Regions from separate parts of the Homo sapiens genome. Here region 1 is linked to region 2. The links come from fine-mapping of genetic effects on gene expression. A gene starts in region 2. The other region holds a variant in brackets. All regions are shown on one strand. Distances are from middle to middle. Region 1 overlaps LOC105373228 (a long non-coding RNA gene). Region 2 holds the start of GREM2 (gremlin 2, DAN family BMP antagonist).

Region 1 (2,922 bases), 76 kb before region 2:
AGAATCTACCAGCAATGCATCCCCCAGAGAATACACAATTTGCATGAATCCCCCTGAGCTAGGGAAGCTGAGGATATCTGAAAGAGAAGGGGGAAAATGTATTTTAAAAGCTTCCCAGAAACAGATTAAGAGTTAAGAAAAAGAAAAATCCTGTTAACAACTGGAATGGGCAGACACCGCTCTGCCAGCCTTAAAAGAGTCAGATGAGAGGCCAGACACGGATTTCTGCTTTTCCGAAAGTCACCCAGACATAGACAAGGATAAAGTAAAAACGAGAAATGTAGAACAACATGATCCCTTTATTTTGATAATTTAGAAAATAAAAAGAAATGATTGCAGTGTAGGCAAGCAGCAGAGGCCTAAAACTTCAATACTTTACATGGAAAAGGAGACTGGAGGTGTTTGAAGAAAAAGCAATTTCAATTGCAGTGGCTTTTAACCTTTTGGGAGCATTGAATTGCCTTGAGAATCTGGAAAATGCTATGCATCCTCTTCCCCCGAATACAAATGCATGATTTTCCATTCCATTCATGAAATTTCACTCATAATTATTTTGCACGTATGACAGGTTAATAACTCTTACACAGAATAGAGTTTCTGGCTTTGTTTTGTTTTGTTTTTCATCTTTTTGTTTGGTTTGTTTGGTAATGAGTTTTGCAAACCTTGGGAAGGTAGTGTGAGGCAAGGTTATTGGTGAGGGAAGGTGATTAACTGTGTTCTAAATAAATAGTAGTTATGGTGAATCATTTCCCTCCCATCCTACCTCAAAGAAAAAATTTGGATAAATAAAATATGTACGAAATTACAATGACATACCAAGAATGGTGAATTCTTAATGCTCCTCAATGTAAACTGGCATGTAAACACATGGACATTTTTCTTGCATCTCTACTTATTGGTTATATTTGTTTCAATCATTAAGATCTTTGAGACTGGGCGCGATGGCTCATGCCTGTAATCCCAGCACTTTGGGAGGCTGAGGCGGGCGGATCACCTGAGGTAGGGAGTTCAAGACCAGCCTAACCAACATGGAGAAACCCTGTCTCTACTAAAAATACAGACTAGCCGGGCGTGGTGGCGCATGACTGTAATCCCAGCTACTAAGGAGGCTGAGGCAGGAGAATTGCTTGAACCTGGGAGGTGGAGGTTGTAGTGAGCCGAGATTGTGCCATTGCACTCCAGCCTGGGCAACAAGAGTGAAACTCCATCTCAAAAAAAAAAAAAAAAAAAAAAGATCCTTGAAAAGCATCATATCATTCATTGTGTCTTTCTTATGTCTTTTACTTAAGACAGTTACCTGGTGTGGCATGACACAATATCTCCCAGCCTCTAAAATATTATTTCTCAATCATATTTTGCCATAGGAATGATCTTGTCTGGTCACATTCCAGAAGCAGGAGGAAAAAAAAATAGCATTTCTGAAGCCAATGAGTGCCAGTCACTTGAAGATGGTAATCTGAACAGGAAGAGCACTGTGACTTACTACTGTCCTTCAGAGAAAAAGGAAGAGGTGCACGTCACAGA[C/T]GGGAAGTCAGTGAACCAGAGGCAAAGGTACTGAAACTTTATTTGGCAAATATGAAACATCCGTTGTGCCAAGAGCACAGATCCAGTTTTTGCAAGATGCAAATTTCATGGCAAACAACAAAAGCCTGAAGAACCACTTAGCTAATAACTGACTTCGTACTCAGCATCCCTTTTCTGTTTTTCTGCTGTGACAGGCCTTTATTGAAAGCCAGAATATATAGATCAGTCAAAACCTCAGAACAAAAAGGTAGTGGGCCTGAGCTCAGAATGTCAGGCAATTAATGCACTAGTGTTGGCATCAGCCTCCAAATCCTTGAAAATATAAAATACTTGAACACTCGTCTCTCTTATGAATGAGTTCCCCATCATATATTGGTTTCCTTAATGAAGATCAGAAAGGAGTTTCGGAAAATGATATGCTTAGCCAATTTAACACCAGCTGTTTGATTCTCCAAGTTTCCTTACCCTAAATGACTTTACAACAAAGTCAAGTAGAAACGCCGCTGAACAATCCTGTCATCCTTTCCTCACCCTGGCCGAATGAGGCTTTTTTTGGATTGCAAAAATTGATTAAAATTAAAAGACATCGTTTAATTAATCTTCTGTGCCATGAGACTCCATCAGGCTGTCTACAAAGACCACTGGGAGGCTGAGGATCACTTGAGCCCAGGAGTTTGAGGCTATAGTGAGCCTCAAAGGGTCTCTGCACTGCAGCCTGGGTGACAGAGCGAGACCTGTCACACACACACACACACACACACACACACACAAAGACTTTTAGCCACATTTCCAGATTTCAATGTAAATGGTACTTGGGGAATGCTTTTTGACCCAAGAAAGGAAACTAGGTCTGAGTGTTTATCGTTTGTAGATTGGTGAATAGATTCAGAAAAGCTAATAACACAAATTTGAGAGTGGCATTTTGTGGGCATAGATTTCACATTAAAACTGAGACCAAAAGACTAGTGTCTGTTATCTTGACATTTTGTGGAGTTAAAACTAAGGACAAAGGCTGTTTAGAGAGCACAGCGGTGATCTGTACTTATGAAATTTAGTGACCCTCAGTTGCTTGGCAAAACTACAAAAAAAAATTGTGACCTGCTTTTTATACAGGTGAATAAACAATTCAGGTATCAAACAATGAACCCCTTGATTTCAAAGGACAGTGATGTGTTTGACGATAAGAGACAATTCCTATAATTCTTTTGTATTCCAGTGAAGTTTATAGCATGAACGACTTGTTTTTTTGGTACAATCCTGTACATTAATTGTTACCAGCACGTATCTCGGAGCTCCTGTCCACACAATAGTCATTACTAACACCTGAGTTGATCTGCACAAGGGCACGGATTACACGGGTAAGTGAAATAGCATCCACATTCATCACCGATTTCAGTT
Region 2 (2,922 bases):
TTTAGAAGAAATACATTCTACACTTTCAAAGATTTATGACAGTATTTTGTTTTTAGCTGCCTACCTAAAGAAAGGGAATGAACTGGAGTTGTTGAAGCAATAAGGATATGCCATTTGAGGTTAGACTGTGGTTAGCAGGAACCAACTGCTAAACGTGGTTTTGTTTTGTATTTCCTTTGTCAATTTCAGCTGATTTCAGGCAGGCCCATTCTGAGAATAAGGCTGCATTTCACAATTCCTGTAATGTGCCCACGTAAGAAAGAAGGCAGGTAGTCTGTTTGGTGATAGTATATTTCAAGAACTAATTGTTATTTCCTGTGAATTTGCAACCCAATGTGCTGTGAGTTGAGTTGGAACTAGAATATCAAATACCAAATAGCATACAAAAGGGATAACACTGCAAAAAAAAAATTCAAGTCAAAAATCAAAACAGAGCTCAGAGATTTCAGAAGCAATGGCTTCTTGTCAAGAATAACTGTCATTAAAATTTCCATAAGCACCAGTGAAATTGATTTTGGGGAAAAGTCTAAGGGAGGGTCTGTTTTATAAGACACACTGAAACTTTATTTTATTCTGAATTTCCCCAGCCAAGTTTGTAAGATCTCAGATTTTTCTTGGGCCCTTTCCCTGCCAAGGGGCCAAAGGTTTATCTCTATTGACACATACAGATAAAAAATTTTCATCCAGGAACCTCTATCAGCAGAGTCTGAATAGTCGTCTTTGGCTGGTGAATCACACTAAGGGAGTCTCAGTCCTGAGATGATCAGTGGTGAGAAGTTCAAAAAATAATGAAAAGAGCAAGCACTTAGGCGTCACAATACGCTTCTGGTATAACGCACCAAGCCGATGGAGCACAAGAATTGGTCTGGCGTCATTGTTTTATGTTCTCTGGATGTTGAAGAGTCTGATTTGCATTAGAAACCTCTGCATTCAATAAACAAAAATCAGGATAATAATGACCAAAGTACTATTTGGAACAGAAAACAAATTCAAGCAATGGGTGTTTTGCACTGAATTCATTCAAGATTTTATTAGTTAAGCTCTCACTTAGGTTATTAGGCTCAGCTTGCTTTTTATTTCACTGGCCTCAGTTACTGCAAACAAAAGGAGCCTGGTGTGTGTGTGTGTGTGTGTGTGTGTGTGTGTGTAAGCGCACGTGTATGAGAATGTCAGACATATCACACACAGGCTTTCTACATTCTTCACATTGGAAACCCATCAGCAAAAGGAAGAAGATCTGAAGGGAATGAGTGTTTTTTTTTTGTTTTTTGTTTTTTTCTGGTTTAGGGGATGGAGGGAGAATTTCTCTACATAAACAAGAAGGTTAGAATTGGAAGTCTGCTAAAAAAAATGTTAGAGCTGACCACAGGGTTGTAAATCCACTGACTGGAAGGAGGAAAAGAGAAACATTGCAAGCGACTGAAGTGTGTGGTGTGGCTGCAATGTTTGTGGGTTAGATGAGAAACAAGCGCTGAGTGAAACAGAGAAGGGGGGTGGCTGGTGTGATTTGTTTGGTGTTCAGAGCCAATAGAAATCCCAGACTCTGATAATATCCCCATGCAGCGCCGAGAGGATTCAGAGCTAAGTCTCCGGGCTCCTTTCACATCTGCAGGAGCAGCCAGCCTGGGACCGCGCGGCGCGGGGCGCGCTCTCGCCTCTCCTGCACCCTCAGCCGGCGCGCTTCTCTTATGGGCGTCTGCTGCAGTCTGGCTGCGGTCGAACTGAAAGCGGCGGCGGGAGACCAAACTTAGACCCCGCTGTGGACTAGAGAACTCAGAGAAGGCAGAGGGAGAGGGAGAGAGAGAGAGAGAAGGGACCCGAGGAGGAGGCTTCCATCACGTCATTGCAGGTACGCAGCTTGTCACGACTAACGTGACACAGACACGGTTTCTGATTTCTACCTTCACCAGGCACTTAGAATGAATTGACGTTGTTTGTTCCGTGGCTGGTCAGGACCGAAAGCCCTGAGTGGACGTCTCGCCGGTTTCACCCCGGGTAATTCAAGCTGTTGGCGTGTGTCTGGGGGCCACAAGGTTTATTCACCTATTGAATTATGCGTGGGTGTAACATAAGGACCTTCAAACTTGACCGTGATCGCTCTTTCTTTCTCTTTTAAATAACGTCAATACCAATATGTTGTCATCCCACCAATAAATACCTCTTGGTGACCGCCATTCTAATCATGACTATAGCGAGGCAAACACCATCCAATTGTTAGAAAGCGGGCTACGAACCTCTCCCACCTACCTACCAGGTTAATATCCTCCCTACAGGAATAGGAACCACAGCGGACTTCGGCAGAGTTTTGATTTTTTAAAGCATATGGCCAAGGTGCACCCGCCTCATGAGGGAAATATCACTATTATCACTACGCTGTGGTTGAAGGAGAAGAGAGAAGGGAGGTAGTTATTTTTTAACGTGATTGTCAGTGATCCTTCCTGTGTACCTGACTTATTTCTACATTGTCTTACGAGTTTAAAAATGCATTTGTATTCTGCACGCCAGGCACGTTCAGTTCCAGGATCTCACATATTACTACATTAAAAAGTCATGAATTGGAACTATCTAGTAGATGTGATAGTTGTAAGAAAATATTGATGTTTGATTTTATTTTATTTGATCCTAAAACTCATAAACTTCTATTTCTTTTTTTTTTTTATTTTGAGGTGTGGGTTTTGTTAAAAAAATCTATTTCCTGAGATTTTATCATGTTTGATTTGAAATTTTAAAGATAGTTATATAACTCCCCACCCCTTGATGACTTGTGATTAAATTAGCATTGCTTAATGAGTTCAGTCTTTCCTGGGAAAAGCCAGAGGGGACTGCAAGAAGTCAGTTAAAAAATTGGTCTTGCTTTGCAGTCTTCAAGGGCTGGCTGGTATTCATGTGGCTCTGAATCCCTATGAAAAGCGCTTTTTCTGC

What was found. PIP is the estimated chance that this variant, and not a neighbour inherited with it, causes the effect.
Region 1: its variant is fine-mapped to the expression of GREM2 in whole blood (TOPMed, PIP 0.94).

Annotation. Positions count from the first base shown.
Region 1 is chr1:240,686,594-240,689,515 of GRCh38, reverse strand. It overlaps LOC105373228 (a long non-coding RNA gene), which reads left to right. Exons shown (of 4, transcript XR_949320.2): 2 at 1,365-1,551; 3 at 2,741-2,882. Among named protein-coding and RNA genes, the nearest start is that of GREM2, 76 kb to the right of the region's middle. The variant C/T (reference allele first, on the strand shown) is at 1,525.
Region 2 is chr1:240,610,811-240,613,732 of GRCh38, reverse strand. It overlaps GREM2 (gremlin 2, DAN family BMP antagonist), which reads left to right and starts at 1,578. Exons shown (of 2, transcript NM_022469.4): 1 at 1,578-1,849.